2 separate regions of the Homo sapiens genome follow, and region 1 is linked to region 2. Evidence: fine-mapped expression QTL. Tissue or cell type: whole blood. Region 2 holds a variant in brackets; the other region holds the start of a gene. Each region is shown on its reference strand, or each on the opposite one.

Region 1 (8,336 bases), not on the chromosome of region 2:
TCAGGCCTCCCAAATATGCCCCTCCCCAGTAGCTACGGTTCCCTGCCTAGGAGCTGGGGAGGGAGAGATCTAATCCCTTCAAGGAAGTGATAACACTGGAGTGGTAACAAGAGGAGCAGGAAGCAAGGCCAGCCCTGGTTCTCCATCCCCATGTGTTTCAGGTGGAACAGGAGGAACTGGTCCAGGCCAGGCCTCATCCTCCTGGACCCAGCAGGGGCAGAAGGAGGAAGGGACTGGTCCAGGCATGGGTCCCTTCCCCCTGCTCCATGGGCACCTCTGCTGTATTGATATCACTAATAAAGTCTGTCTGCACTGCTGTGTGCCTTCTTATGCCTGTACCACACCATCAACCCATTAGCCTGTGCCTCAGTTATGATCTTGCTCCAAAGATCTCCTTGCCCTGCTTGCCTGGAAAGAAGAAATTGGGACAGTCACACAGGGGTCTGGAGTCCAAGTCTCTTATCTTTATTTTAACAGACTGGCAGCATCAGGTCGCAGCAGCAGTACAGGGTTCCTGGCTGGGCAGCACAGGCCTGGGGCGACAGCTCCTGTCTTGTCTGCCCAGGGCAGTGTCAACTTAGGCCTCTACTCCATGGCTGTGAAAGGACAGCAGCCTCAAGGCAGTCTAGCTCCTGGGCACAGGCAGCCAAACCCCCTCCCATATCCAGCTAAACCAGCTCCAGGAAAGGAGAAGGTCCTGTTTCCCCGGCATCCTTGGGGCCCAGGGACTGGTTCTTTCACCGGATGATCTTGCCTGGTTGAACCACAGCAGCATTTGGGCTTTTTCACCCTTTCCTACATCAAGAACTTTCCCAAATGTGGGCCCTGGGGCCCTAGCAAAACAGTGGCCTTGGCCACAGGCTCTGGGCCTCTGGGAGGCTCCCATCTGGCATCAGGTGGCGGCACAGAGCAGGGCTGTCAGCACGGGCAGAGAGCTGGGCACAAAGAGTAGCCAGACGGCAGGGCGTGCCACAGGGCTCCGAGGGTGGGTGGCCCTTATGGTAGAGAAACCAGAAGGTCTGGAAAAGTTGCATGTCGCCCCGCATGCGATATACCAGGTTGTGCCAGGCGGTAGGCAGTGTGTTGGGCAGCCCATAGGTTTCTCGAGCCCTGTAGAGAAGCTGCCAGTGCGGTATGGCTCCCGGTATGTTTGCCTGGGTCAGATTCAGGATGTAGGTCTCATGGTCCAGGACCACGTGAGAGCTCCCGGAGTAGTTTCCATCTATTTGGTACACACGGTAACCTGCAAGGATGTGGGGCTGACTGGAGGGGCAAGGAGCAAGGGTAACTCCAGGGAGGGGCCACACATCCTGCCCATGCTTTGCAGGCTCTGGCTCCAACCTCCTTCCCCTATCCCACCAACTCCAGGATAAGGGAGGCTCCCTTCTGCCTCACTCACCAGGATTAAGGCCGATGTAGGTAGTTGCACTGGGTGCCAGGAAGGCTACAGCCAGCGGCCGGCTCAGAGTCTCTTCATCATAGAAGACCTCAAATTCATCCACATGAGTGTGGCCAAAGAACTGAGCAGCCAGGGTGTTCTCATACCTGGCCAGAAGGTACTACATTCAGAAGATTCTAGGGAGGGGTAGGAAGACATCTGGGGAGATAGGATGCCCTCTTTCTCCAACCTGTTCTAGTGAGGAGCCTCCCCACTCCATGGGACAACAGGGATGGTGAGATGCTCAAGGGAATTTTCAGCCTTCAGACACTCACCCTGTCCCTATTCCCACCCTCATCTCCGTCCTACCTGGCTACAATTCGGTAATAATTCCAGCTCCAGCTCTTCAGACAGTGCCCTGGGGGAATGTGGCCAATTATATGCACCTAGTAGGGAGAATTAAGGATGGTAATCAGGGCATCCAGGGGTCCAGGCAGCCCTGGCTAGAGAAAGGGGGACTGAATGAAGGCTTTCAACAGTGACCATGAGCTGAATCCCCAGGGAACACTTGTTGGGAATGCCAGGAAAATAAAACTTCTGTGCCCAGAGGTGCTCCAGCTCAACAGGAGCCTGCTTGTCCCCCAGCACCACCGTGTTCCCACTACTGGCCCTCACTTTGTCTCCTCGATCCTCAGCAGCCTGAAGCTCCCCCACCAGCCACTGGAGCTGTCCTGCGGGATCCGTGGAGTTGATCAAGAGCCAGAAGTTCTCACGGGAACAAAAATTCATATTGAGAGAGATGAGGCGGAGACCGGGGTATGGGGAAAGAGCATAGAACCCCCCAATTCTGAAACAAAGTAAACATGAGAGGTCAACACTTGTTCCAATCCTGGTCCTCCTGTGCTGGGCATTTGGGTGGAGGGTAAAAGCATACATGACATCTTCCCCACCTGCAAGGAGCTCACAGTCTAGCCAGAGACCAAACAGTTCTAATTATTGGGTCTGTGTGACACAAAAGACTCTGAGGGCAGAGGGCTCCAGGAGTATGGGGGAGGGATAAGAGTTAGCTAGAATGGGAAGCAAGGACCACACAGAGGGAAGATGACATGGGATGGATAAGGTGGGAAAAACTGGAGCACTTAAAAAAAAGGGGGAAATCATTTCCAGAGGGCCAACATGAGCAAAGACACAGCTGGGGCATAGAGAGGTTATGCTGCCAGACCTTTGAAGGAGGGTGGCTGGAGATAAGAGTAGAAAGGGAGGGCTGGAAAGCTGGGTGCAGTGGTTCATGCCTGTAATCCCAGCACTTTGGGAGGCCGAGGTGGGCAGATCATGAGGTCAGGAGATCAAGACCATCTTGGCCAACATGGTGAAACCCCATCTCTACTAAAAATACAAAAATTAGCTGGGTGTGGTGGCGTGCACCTGTAGTCCCAGGTACTTGGGAGGCTGAGGCAGAATTGCTTGAACCCAGGAGGTGGAGGCTGTAGTGAGCTGAGATGGTGCCACTGCACTCCAGCCTGGGCAACAGAGCAAGATTCCATCTCAAAAAAAAAAAAAAAAAAAAAAAAAAAAAGGGAGGGCCAGGAGCAGTAGCTGATGCCTGTGGTCCCAGCATTTTGGGAGGCCGAGGCGGGAGGATTGCTTGAGGTTAGGTGTTTGAGACCAGCCTGGGCAACATAGCAAGATCTTGTCTCTACAAAAACTAAACTAAAAAAAAAAAAAAAAAAAAAGCCTGGTGCGGCAAAACAGTAGAAAGGGAAGGAGGAGTCAGATTAGGGGAGCCAAATGAAGAGCACTAAGGACTCATGCTAGAGCAATCAGAGACAATGCCCCAGGTTCCCTTCTCCCTTCACTTTCATTCACCTTTCTTTTCCCTTCCTGGGTTTCCACGGACGATAAGTACCTGAGGGTGCGCAGGGCTTCGGCAGGCAGCCAGGGCTCCCAAGCCTTGGCCATCGCTTCATAGAGCCAGCGGGAGGAGTGGTTGCCCTCAATGAAGGGGGGAGGGAAGCTATTGACAGGTGTGCTTTCATGGTTACCCACAGCAGGGTACACTGGCACTGGCCCCAGGAACTTCCTCACAAGTGCTGTGACGGTGGTCAGGGCCCGCAGTTGGTCCTGACGAGTCTGGTGCCAGACATCATGTGCGGGGATGTCTCCTGTCCAGTACACCATATCAAAAGGGCCGGCTGGGCCCAGCCCACTCAACAGGCTCTCCAGGGTCCTCAGGGGCAGGTCACACTTGCTGTATTCGCCCCAGTATCCGGCACCTGGCCGGGATGCGGGCGGCAGGCCAGAACCCCGGCGGCAGCACAGTGGGTCTGCACAGTCAGGGTCCGTGCCCTCCAGGTAGTCATGATCCCAGTGCAGGTCAGTGAGGAAGAGGATGCGGCTGACAGGGGCACCTGGGGCTGGGGGGCTAGGGGGTTTGGGGGGCGGCTTCGGCACAGTAGGCAAAGAGATGTTCCAAGATGAGAAAATGTCCCAGTGCCCACAGGTGGAGCCCAGGAGCAGGCCACAGGCCTCAGATGGGCTCAGCACTGAGCGTCTCCACACCTCCACCATGTCATCCTCAAAGAGGTGGACAATGGATTGGCACACGGCAGGTGGTGCTATCTTCAGCAGATTGCACAGCTTGATGGCCACGGAGCCCACGCGAGCCACATTGGGTTCCTTCTGCAGTGGGAGGAGCGCATGGTGAGAAATCAGAGGCAGAGCAGAGGAACCAGGCCAACCCCTGGCCACCACCCCTTGGGCCTCCATTTCCAAACTGGGGCTGGGCAGGACTCAGTGCACCAAGCTCAGTGCACACCTTTGCCTTCCAGATATTGCCCTGTAACTCAGGCAGCACCAGGCCATCGCTTCTTCTTTAGCTCAGCGGCCTGTGGCATGAGGCCTTTGCTTGGCAAGCTGACTTCCTCAGGCACTGTCTGCATTATTTTCTTACTTCACAAAGGTCACAATGGGGTGATGGTGGCATGTAGCCATGGGTGTCCCCAAAGGGGAGCAAACTCAGTGATGGATTGTAGATGCCACCCTCTCCATCAGGGATGCATTCTGAGCCCAGCGCACCAGCATCAGCCCCAGCCCCCAGCCCCAGCACTCCTTTCGGCCTCCTCCACTGCAGCCCCTTCAGTGCTCACCTTCAGCCCGAGGTTGATGGCGGTGAATAGACCTTTGCAGATTGGGCAGGTGAGGTTCCCCCACCCAAAGACATCTCGGAGCCGGGGCACTATGCGATGTAACCTGGCAGGATGGCCTTGGGGAGAAAGAGGGTGAGCCTCTGCCGGAGCCCAGAGAACCCGAGAGTCAGACAGAGCCAGCGCCAGCGCCAGCGCCAGCGCCAGCGCCAGCACCAGGCCCATCCAAAGGAGTCCGGGGGCTCCGGCGGTCCCGTCTTGTCCCTGCTCCCGGCCGGACCTGGGGCAGCTCTGGCGGAGTGACGCTCCGTAGCGGGGCATTGTCGCGCTTCCTACACGGGGCTGGTTCGTCTGTCCCGTCCCCCCCGGCCTGGACCCTAGCCAGCCCTCAGGGCCCCGGGCGGCGCCGGGGACACCCGATTACCCTTCTCTGTAGTCGGCTGACTGCTCCGCGGCCGGCCGCAAAGCAGCTCCGCCCCTTCCTCTTCCTCTGATCTCTGACAGCTGATCTCTCGGTGGCGGGCGGCTGTCAACGCTGCGGAGGCGGAGGGGGCGGGGCGCTCCCGGGACCGCCCCGATTCCGCCCCCTCTCCCTGCCCCCGCCCTGCCCCGGGCGCACGGGCTGCGGGGGTGGGGACTCTCCCTGAGGTCACCAGGGGCTCCGCCTTGAGGTCACAGCCGCGGGAGGCCGTGCTCGTGCTTTGGAGCTCCATGTGATGTGGTCGGTGGAAGACGTCTCCTTTGTCAGAATCCGCGCTCAGATTCCCGGAATAGCTGCCAGACCGACCCCAGCGTTTAGCCCGGGAAGGGGAGGTAGGAGAGAGCAGGGCGGGCAGGATCCTCCCACTGGGTGTGTTGCCTCTGACAGGAAGGCGCCTTCCCTCGATTCCCCATGCTCTGCCACTGGCACCAGCCCTCTTGAGTCACCCTGAGAATCACTCACCTGTGATTCAGATGAGGAAACAAACCTTAGAGATGGTGAAGAGACTAGGAAGCCGTAAAGACCATATAGCCGTGGGGGCCAATAACATGGGCGGGAACCCAATTGGGTCTCCCACCTCCGTGTATCCACGACAGTAAAAGCGAGCATTTATGGAGTTGTTTATGATGTGCCAAGCACCAACCCAGGCACTTTATAATTAATAATCTTCAATTCTCACAACAACCCTAAGAAGTACCTATTATATTGGGGCTCAGAAATCCATACCCAAAATATGGTGGTTTGACTTACTAAGTTAAGCCTTAAGGTGTGTCTGGCCTTCCTACTCCCGCGCCCTCTCTCCCAAAGCCGTTACCTAGCGTCCAGACCCATCAAAAGGAACAACGGTTTTTTTCTTCCCCTCCCTACAAAACCAAGAATATAATCACACCTGAACAGACCCCTTCACATGATAATGTGCTAGTTAATCTGTTCCCTGATCCATTCCTTCTCCCTCAGCAGAATTCCTCTTCCCCTCACTCCCACAACCCCCTTTGCCTGAATGACACCTAAGCTTCTGAACTCGTCTGGGAAGTGGGTAGTCACTCTGTGGTTCCCCGTGGACACATTAATACAATTTCTATGCCTTTTCTTCAATTAATCTGTTTTTTGTGGGTTGATTTTTCAGCAGAATTTCAGAGGGCGAAGGGAAAGTTTCCCTTGGTCCCTGCAAATACTATTATTACCCTCCTTTACAGATAGGATGAGGCACAAAGAAGTTAAGTGGCAGAATAGCAATTAAACCCTAAGCTGTTTGACGAGTGCTTCTGAGGAATCCTCAGAGCTATCAAGTCCTGTCAGTTCTTTCCTTTGATAATTTTTTACAAGTGTTTTTTCCCCCCAGTTCTGGGGACATCATCTCAGATAGAGTACTCACAGTAATAATTAGCATGCATTTTTAAGATTATGTACTATGAAAAACAAAACAAAACAAAACCTTTTTATCTAAGGAAGATGAGCCCCTTTAAATTATCAGGCCCAGACAGGCATTTAAAATGTAGCAACAGTCACTCTCACTCTTCTTTGAGCTAAGTAATTATCTCTTGAAACCACTTGCTATGCCAAGTAGCCATTAAATGCCATACACCTTATAGTTCAACAATGTATAGCCAAGCGCTAAACAATGTATAACCAGTGTTATTTCTGTAAACAATGAGAATTCCTGATGAACAACTTTTGTATTCATTTCCTCTCCTAATTCATCTTTTTTTCTTTGAAAATATGAGCCTCTCTTTTGTTGTCCAGAGTGCTCCCCCAAGACAACTTGCAAGTGTGTCCTGGGTCGCAGTCCTCAACCTTGGCCCTTGGCCCGAATAACCCTCTGTAGGTACTTTTCTGAGGACTCTGCCTTACGTTAATCCTCACAACAAATTTGGAAGTCGGTATTATAATTATCCCCATTTTACGGAGAAGGAAAGTAGGATTAAGTAAGTGGCTCAAGATCCCACAGCTAGCTAGTAAGTGCTGGAACTGGAATTTGGATGTGTCAAGCAAAACATGTCTGAGACAGGTCTCAATCAATTTAGAGGTTTATTTTGCCAAGGTTAAGGACATGGCTGGAAGAAATAAACACGGAATCGCAGAAACAGTCTGTGGTCTGTGGCTTTCTCCAAAGATGATTTTGAGGGCTTCAATATTTAAAGGGGAAAAGTGAGCTGGAGGGAAAGAAGAAGGGTATGGTAATCCACATGTCGCAAGAGAAAAGGAGCAGGTAGGGAGATACTCAATTATGTGTTCGTCTGGCACTTTACATAAGATAAAGTAAATATGCCTGTGGAGATATTTAACCTTTTGTGTTTTTTTTGTTTTTTTTTTTTTGAGACAGAGTTTTCGCTGTTGTTGACCAGGCTGGAGTGCAATGGCGCAATCTCGGCTCACCACAACCTCTGCCTCCCGGGTTCAAGTGATTCTCCTGCCTCAGCCTACTGAGTAGCTGGGATTACAGGCATGTGCCACCACACCCGGCTAATTTTGTAAATATTTAACCTTTTGTCTGTAGCTATCTGCTTAGGAACAAAAGGAAAGGCAGCTTCTTGCATGACTCAGTTTTCAGTTTATTTTTTTTCCTTTTGGCATAGTCAACTGGAGTCCTGAGTTTTTATTTTCCTTTCACAAATGCAACATTCTGGCTCTATTCTTTGCTGTGTGGGGACCCATTCAGAACACCAGAGTTGGTATAACAATTATTTTAAGCCGAAGACATTTCAGATTCAATAGATGCAGAAATAAACCTTCTGGGAGCTTTCTTCATCTGATTAAAACTTCTGGGAAATGTCAACCTAAAGGGAAAAATCTAAGGCAAACTTGATATAAGTAGAGAGTTTATTTGGGCCAAGTTTGAAGACTGTGAAGCGAAGATTCAAGTTGCCCTGAGTATATGCTCCCAATTAGCAGAAGTCACAAGTGGGTTTTTAAAGGAGAAGAAGAGGCAGTTCCTAATGAGGACTAAGCTCTGATTTTTTCTTATCTTGCTCAAATTCCTATCGAAAGGGTCTGGGGAGTCATGCCCTACAAACCATAAATTCTTATCAGTTGGGTTTTATTTAACACTATATATTGTGACTGCCTTTTCAGTCATACTCTGGCATAAAATTACGTGATAAAGAAGAAAGTCAAAATATTTTACCCCAAAACATGTTTCTTTGCCATATATATATATATATATATATATATATATATATATATATATATGTTTTTTGGTTTGGGGTGGGGGGCGGGACAGAGTTTCACTCTTATTGCCCGGGCTGGAGTGCAATGGGGTGATCTTGGCTTACTGCAACCTCCCCCACCCAGATTCAAGGGATTCTCCTGCCTCAGCCTCCCGAGTAGCTGGGAT
Region 2 (8,336 bases):
CGGGTTCAAGAGATTCTCCTGTCTCAGCCTCCCGAGTAGCTGGGAGAGAGTTTTAATATTAAAGGGATGCTGGATTTTGTTGAATGTTTTTTCTACAGCTATTGAGATGGTCACGTGATTTTTGTATTTAATTCTGTTTGTGTGGTGCATCACATTTATTGACTTGCATATGTTAAACCATCCCTGCATCCCTGGTATAAAACCCACTTGATCATGGTGAATTATCTTTTTGATATGTTGTTGGATTCAGTTAGCTAGCATAATGTTAAGGATTTTAGCATGTAGGTTCATCAAGAATATTGGTCTGTAGTTTTCTTTTTTGATTACGTCCTTTCCTGGTTTTGGTATTAGGGTGATGCTAGCTTCATAGAAAGAATTAGGGAGGGTTCCTTCTTTTTGTATTTTGTAAAGTAGTGTCAAAGGATTGGTACCAATTCTTCTTTGAATATCTGGTAGAATTCTGCTGGGAATCCGTCTGGTCCTGGACTTTTTTTGTTGTTGTTGTTTGTATTTTTTAAATTACTATTTCAATCTCGCTGCTTGTTATTGGTCTGTTAAGGGTATCTAATTCTTCCCGATTTAAGCTAGGAAGGTTGTATTTTTCCAGAAATTTATCCATCTCTTCTAGGTTTTCTAGTTTATATGCATAAAGGTGTTCATAGTAGCCTTGAATGATATCCTGTATTTCAGTGACGTCAGTTGTAATGTCTCCTGTTTGGTTTCTTATTGAGGTTATTTGGACTTTCTGCCTTCGTTTATTGGTTAATCTTGCTAATGGTCTATCAGTTTTATTTATCTTTTCAAAGAACCAGCATTTTGTTTCATTTACCTTCTATATTTGTGTGTGTGTGTCCATTTCATTTAGTTCTGCTCTGATCCTGGTTATTTCCTTTCTTCTGCTGGGTTTGGGTTTGATTTGTTATTATTTCTCTAATTCCTTGTGGTGTGACCTTAGATTGTGTGTTTGTTCTCTTTCAGACTTTTTTTTTTTTTTTTAATCTTGTTGCCCAGGCTGGAGTACAATGGCGCAATCTCAGCTCACCTCAACTTCCGCCTCCTGGGTTCAAGAGATTCTCCTGCTTCAGCCTCCCGAGTAGCTGGGATTACAGGCATGTGCCACCAGGCCTGGCTAATTTTTTGTATATTTAGTAGAGACGGAGTTTCTCAATATTGGTCAGGCTCGTCTTGAACTCCTGACCTCAGGTGATCCACCCACCTCGGCCTCCCAAAGTGCTGCAATCACAGGCATGAGCCACCGAACCTGGCCCTCTTATAGACCTTTTGATGTAGGCATTTACGGTTATAAACTTTCCTCTTAGCACTGCCTTTTCTGTATCCCAGAGGTTTTGATAGGTTGTGTCATTATTGCCATTCACGTTGAAGAATTTTTAAATTTCCATCTTGATTTTGTTTTTGACTCAGTGCTCATTCAGGAGCAGGTTATTTAATTTCCATGTATTTGTATGGTTTTGAAGATTCCTTTTAGAGTTGATTCCCGGTTTTATTCCACTGTAGTCTGAAAGGGTGCTTGATATAATTTCAATTTTCTTACATTTATTGAGGCTTGTTTTATGGCCTATCATATGGTGAATCTTGGAGAAAGTTCCATGTGCTATTGAATAGAATGTGTATTCTGCAGTTGTTGGATGAAATGTTCTGTACATATCTGTTAAGTCCATTTGTTCCATGGCATAGTGTAAATCCATTGTTTCTTTTTTGGCCTTCTGTCTTGATGAATTGTCTAGTGTTGTCAGTGGAGTATTGAAATCCTCCACTATTGGTGTCTATGTTGCTGTCTATCTCATTTCTTAGGTCTATTAGTAATTGTTTTATAAATTTGAAAGCTCCAGTGTTAGGTGCATATATGTTTAGGATTGTGATATTTTCCTTTTGGACAAGGCCTTTAATGTCCTTCTTTGTCTCTTTTAACTGCTGTTGCTTTAAAGTTTGATTTGTCTGATATAAGAATAGCTACCCCTGCTAGCTTTTGGTGTCCATTTGCATGAAATGCCTCTTTCCACCCCTGTACTTAGGTTTATGTGAATCCTTACGTGTTAGGTGAGTCTCCTGAGGGCAGCAGATGATTGGTTGGTAAGTTCTTTTCCATTCTGCGGTTATATATCTAAGTGGAGCATTTATGCCATATACATTCAATGTTAGTATTGAAATGCGAGGTACTATTGCATTCATCATACTCTTTGTTTCCTGTGTATTTTGGTTTTTTTTTTTTTGCTTTTTAGCTAGTATTTTTGTAATAGATCCTGTGTGATTTATTCCTTAAAAATATTCTGTTTTGAGTGTTTCCAGGATTTGTTTCAAGATTTAGGGTTCCTTTTAGCAGTTATTGTAGTGGTGGCTTGGTAATGGTGAATTCTCTCAGCATTTGTTAGTCTGAAAAAGACTGTATCTTTCCTTCATATGTGATGTATAGTTTCATTGGATACAAAATTCTTGGCTGAATAGTGTTTTGTTTGAGGAGGCTGAAGATAGGGCCCCAATCCCTTCTAGCTTGCAGGGTTTCTGTTGAAAAATCTGCTGCTAATCTGATAGGTTTTCCTTTATAGGTTACCTGGTGCTCCTGCCTCACAGCTCTTAAGATTCTTTCCTTAGTCTTACCTTCTTCCTCAGGAACACCAATTATTCTTAGTTTTGGTCATTTAACATAATCCCAGACTTCTTGGAGGCTTTTTTCATATTTTCTTATTATTTTTTCTTTGTCTTTCTTGGATTGGGTTAATTTGAAGACCTTCTTTTTGAGCTATGAATTTCTTTCTTCTACTTGTTCAATTATATTGCTGAGATTTTCCAGAGCATTTTGCATTTCTGAAAGTGTGTTCAGAGTGTCCTGAATTTTTTATTGTTTTTGCTTTAAGCTATCTATTTCCTTGAATATTTTTCCCTTCACTTTTATATCATTTTTTGGATTCTCTTGCATTGAGCTTTGCGCTTCTCTGGTGCCTCCCTGATTAGCTTAATAACTAACCTCCTAAATTCTTTTTCAGGTTAATCAGGGATTTCTTCTTGGTTTGTCTCCATTGCTGGTGAATTAGGGTGATTTTGGGGGCTGTTAAAGAGGTATGTTTTCTCATATTACCAGGGTTGGTTTTCTGGTTCCTTCTCACTTGGGTAGGCTCTATCAGAGGGAAGTTCTAGGGCTGAAGGCTGTTGTTCAGATTCTTTTGTCCCATGGGTGTGTTTACTTGTTGTAGTACTCTCCCCTTTTTCCTATAGATGTGGCTTCCTGTGAGCTAAATTGCAGTGTTTGTTGTCTCTTTTCTGGGTCTAGCCACCTAGTGACTCTACTCAGCTCCGGGCTGGCACTGGGGGTTGTCTGCACGGAGTACTGTGATGTGAACCGTCTA[T/C]TGGTCTCTCAGCCATGGATACCAGTTCCTGTTCCAGTGGAGGTGGTGGGGAGTGCAATGGACTCCGTGAGGGTTCTTAGCTTTAATGCTCTAGTTTTGTGATGGTTGGCCTCCTGCCAGGAGGAATCAGCTCCAGGGAGTATCAGCTGTAGTAGTATGTATAGGGACCAGTGGTGGGGGTTGGGGGTCCTAGAACTCCCAAGGTTATATGCCCTTTGTCTTCGGTTACCACGGTGGATAGGGAGGGGCCATTAGTTGGGGGTGGGGCTAGGTGTGTCTGAGCTCTGACTCTCCTTGTGTGGGTCTTTCTGTGGCTGTTGTGGGGGATAGGGGTGAGATGCCCAGGTTAATGGAGTTGTGTACATAGGAGGATTATGCTGCCTCTGCTGAGTCATGCAGGTTGTCAGGGAAGTGGGGGAAAGCCGGCAGTCATAGGCCTCACCCAGCTCCCATGCAAACCAAAGAGCAGTTCTCATGGAGCCTGTTTCCAGGTGGTGGGCAAGATGGGCTTGAAAACTTGCCTCAGGCTACCTGCCTCTCAACTATGGAAAAAAAGGGCTTGGTTCTTCCCCTGCCTGTGGAGTCTGCACAACAGATTTGTGCCCTCCCATGAGTTCTGGCCAGGAGGCTTCTCGCCCTGTTCAAATTGTTACAAAGTTCAACTATAGATTTCTTTCTTCCTGTGGAGTTTCAACACCTGCTCCTCTGGCCACCCTCACAATGGATCCCTGTGGTGCCAAGCAGGAATGGCCTGTTTGGGCACCCAGTGAGCTCCCAGGGCCTTTCTACTGCTTCCTCAAACCCTGTATTTTGCTCAGCTCTCTAAATGGATTCAACTCCAGAGAAGGTAGGAAACTTCTCCCACAAAGAGACCTTCAGTTTCTCCAGTGGGGCTGTGTGTTCCAGAGAGGGGGGTCTCCCTTTACCACTTCCAGCGTCGGGGCACTGACAGTATTTGTGGTGTCTCTTGGGTACTGCAGAAACAGTTCGCTTCCTTCAGAGAGTCTGTGGGTACTCTCGGGATTGCTGGCTTGTTCTTGCAGTCAACCTGGAGCTAAAATTCACAATGCGAGCCTCTGCACACTGATCTATACAGAGCTGCAATCTAGTCCTACTTCCCATCCACCATGATTAACAGAACATTTTTGTCAATGACTGGCTGGACATCTTCATTGTTTGGAAACGTTCTTCTCATTTCTTTCTCCTCCACCTTCAATGGCTTCCAACATCACTCAGAGTAAAAGCCCAGGACTCTCCTATTTTATTATACTCTTTTGAAACATGAATTATAATGACCACATAGTATTCAATTGAGGATAATATCACAATTTAATTTATTAATCCTTTGAGGTTGGGCATTATATTGTTTCCAAATCTCAGTGTTAAAAATATTTCCAGAATGAGTATCTTTCTGTAAAAAGGTTCTACAAATCCTGTATGATTTCCAAAGTTAGATTCTTAAATAAGGAATTACTGGTCAAAAAATATAAGCTCTTAAATTTGTCTTAAATGCGTATTGTTAAACTTATTTACAATAAATGTTCACTATTTACTATTACTGTTAGCAAAGTATAATTCTCCCGTTCTTCCTGTCATTGTTTTTCCATAGTTCTCATTTTACTTAACCTGTGCTCATTTCAAACAATAAATTCATGTCCCGCTACCAATTTTAATTTGGGAGGCAGAATAGCCTGATGGTTAAGAGCCCTAATCTGGGAGCCAATTAGTACATTATAGTGCTGTCTCTTAGTTTAGTTTGACATTTATTTATTTTAACATGAGACCCTTCTAGAAAAGTGTTATTGGAAAGTTACAAGTCATATCTTCTCAGAAATCATCACTCCCTTTTCCGTGCTCCCACAACGGAATGTCTATGTTTCTAGGGATCATTTATAACACACAGCCTACTAGATAGGATTAAAATCATGCTTATTTACATATAGCAGGTTGCTTCCATAATGAATGCCTAGACCAGTGTAAGAATTGAACATACTAATATATTTAAGAAAATGAGAATATTCAGACAGTCATGGTCAGGATTAAAGATAACTATAGTGGTATTCTTAAAAACAAAGAATTTGTTGATCACCTATTAGCTACCAAATACTTTACAGAAAAGTTATTCAGTCACAATAAGTCTTATAAGTTAAGAACTGCCAGCTCAATCTACGGGTGTAGTGGATTGAATAGTCCCAAAATACATGTTCACTCAGAACCTGAGAACCTGACCTTATTTGGAAATAGGGTCTTTGCAAATTTAATTAGTTAAATATCTTGAAATGAAATCACTCTAGATTTAGGGTGGCCCCTAAATTTAATAAATGGAGTCCTTATAAGAATAGGAGTGGACACACAGACACAGGAAAGAGGGACACGTGAAAATGGAGGCATAGACTGGAGTGAGGCTGTCACAGCTGAGGACTCTCAGGAGCCACCCAAAGCCAAGAGGAGCAAGGAAGGATTCTCCCCTAGAGCCTTCGGAGAGAGTGTGACTCTGATGACACTTTGATTTTGGACTTCTGGCCTCAAAAACCATTAAGACGACACATTCCTCTGATTTTAAGCCACCAAGTTTGTGGCAACTTTTATGGCAAGTCCAGAAAATGGATACAACCAGTAAGAAAACTGATGCTCTGAGGACTTCAATTCACTTTTCTGAGCTTCAATTTTTATGCTGGTGTGTGGTAGTTTGTTTTTCTGGATTTCTAGCACAAATACATTTTGTGCAAACCTGCCCAGGCTATGAGAGATGGACAGCCATAGTTTTTCAGCACATGCAGAGAATGGGGTCACCATAAACTACCTGATGACTAAATGTAGTCTAAATTTAGTCTAAATTAGTTTGATTTAGAGATGTTTCCTTAATTTTAGTGACAGTTCATGTTGCATCTTCCCAGGCCGAGGTTGGAAAATATGCTCCTTTTACAGGGACACTGCTATGACAAACAATACAATTAGTTGGCCTTGAAACTTTCCTTTTTATGGCCTAATAAAAGTAACACTGCATTCACCAGACAACCAGTCATCTATCCCCCTCGTGGATCCCACTGTATAAGAGAAGCACATGCTCTGGTTACATTAACACCTCTGACCTCTCCCCATCAGATATGTCCAATAAGCAAGAACTGTTTTCCACAGCCCCTCTCACAAAATAATGGTGCATTCCTTTTACTAACTTTGAGAAAGATATTGCTAAACATGTATAGGGTTAATAATGTATTAATAATGTAAAGAAATTTGAAATTTCTTTAGAATGGTGTCTTTCATTTCAAGTAATGGAATGACCCCCGCCCCCCCCGGCTATTTTTCCCCATAGAGTGTGGCTATAGCATGGAGACTGGGAAGAAATTTAAGGTGTGACCCATCCCTTTGCCATCATGAAGGAAAGATTTGGTTTTGTACAATTTGAGTTTTCAAATGTCACTTTCTACAGAATTATTATGAAATATTTGACTTATGGTCCATTTATTGTACTTCGCTCTGAACATTAATCCTATAGTTTCAGTTTTCCAGAATTGTCCAGAAGTTACTAATTTATCTTATTCTATTTCTTCACCTCCCTCTCTTTCCTTTCATTAGACTATCAAGTAGTTAGGAAAGAAAGTCAGTGAGATGTCTCAGGCGTGACTCAGCTACGGAAACAATAGCAATCAGAGGACATTTGGAGATGAAGAAAAAAAAGAAACAAACTTCAATACAATGAGAAATATACCAGTACATGTATGACACTCAAGTAACATAATGATCTTAAGGCTAATTTACTACCTCCTTGTTGCCTGACAGGTCAGAACAATTTGTTTAGAACATGAAATCTGCTAGTAACTATGAGATGTTGGATGTGTCATTAGCCTCTCAAAAGTCTCCATTTCCAGGCCCAAAAAATTACGATGGGTAAATACTTGATGAAGTTGTTGTGTGTTTTAATTGCAACTGAGGATTAATTACCAGCAAGCATCAGTCACTACATATTTTTTATTGATCATATTCTGTGAGCTAGGCACTGTGCTATTTTCTGTGCTAGAATCACTTACTATGAGACAGCCTGAGTAGAATTTCCTCTACTGGACTTATCTTCAACAAAGACAATAAAAATTGTCATTATTTTCAACAAAAATCTGGAACTTAACCTGGAAACCTCACTTTTCTGTGCCAGGAGGTTTCATGGGCTTTTCCCATAGGCCATTCGGGTTTATCTATGTGGACCTCAGTTTTCATATTCTTCACAACTTATACTCAAGTTAGGGCCCTGGTACCTACACTTTATGTAGCTATAGAAGAGAGCAATGATATTGGTCTTATCTTACTATGGAAGAATTGCTATAACCTCATATTCATCTGCAAATGTGGACATTTGGAACAGTAAAGAAGCGATGAACTAAATTCTAAGCCAGGCAAAGGGAGTGTTACTACCCTGACCAAAAGAATTTTTTTAACATGGAGTCCCCAAGACAACGATGGTGACTGACTCAGTGCGTATTTTTCAGCTTCATCATAACCTCATTGCAAAAGTCAACACTGCTGAAATGTGCTTTCTTTTTAAAGCACCTTCTTCTCCTGTCTTTATTCATAAACACACGTATATCTGTTTCCTCTGACCTCACCAGCTGTTTTAACCCAGAGTCTTCTTTGCAGAATGTCTGTACAGTATTCCTCAGAATTCAGTCTTGCTTTACTTGTCTCTCTTCTCCCAACACAACCTCCCGAGGTGATCGAAAACATTCCAGTAAATATAATTTACAAATGTAAGTCTCTCATCATTGTATCACCGTGAAACATTAGTGAATATACATAGTGCTTCTATGAGATGTTTCCTCTTGGATATCTCAGAGGTATTTCAAAATTTACATGATGATTTTGTACAAAATAATTTTTAAGAATTATGAAAATTTTCAAACATACAAAAAACTAGAGTGATGAGCTCATGATTTAGCTTCTATAATTATCTAGAAAAATGAAATCTCTTCCAGGTATACA

The links. PIP is the estimated chance that this variant, and not a neighbour inherited with it, causes the effect. A credible set is the group of variants that fine-mapping cannot tell apart.
Region 1: it holds the start of SMPD1, and the variant in region 2 is the best candidate, but not a certain one, in a credible set for the expression of SMPD1 in whole blood (TOPMed, PIP 0.69).

What each region holds. Positions count from the first base shown.
Region 1 is chr11:6,387,105-6,395,440 of GRCh38, reverse strand. It overlaps SMPD1 (sphingomyelin phosphodiesterase 1), which reads right to left and starts at 4,967. Exons shown (of 6, transcript NM_000543.5): 1 at 4,525-4,967; 2 at 3,285-4,057; 3 at 2,054-2,225; 4 at 1,748-1,824; 5 at 1,400-1,545; 6 at 445-1,243. The coding sequence starts at 4,842. The coding sequence ends at 834. APBB1 (amyloid beta precursor protein binding family B member 1) reads left to right here. Exons shown (of 15, transcript NM_001164.5): 15 at 1-316. LOC124902624 (a long non-coding RNA gene) reads left to right here and starts at 5,085. Exons shown (of 2, transcript XR_007062573.1): 1 at 5,085-5,334. RefSeq lists a silencer at 4,751-5,250.
Region 2 is chr2:122,804,192-122,812,527 of GRCh38, reverse strand. LOC105373594 (a long non-coding RNA gene) reads left to right here and starts at 3,635. Exons shown (of 4, transcript XR_923289.3): 1 at 3,635-4,209; 2 at 6,942-7,831. The variant T/C (reference allele first, on the strand shown) is at 3,363.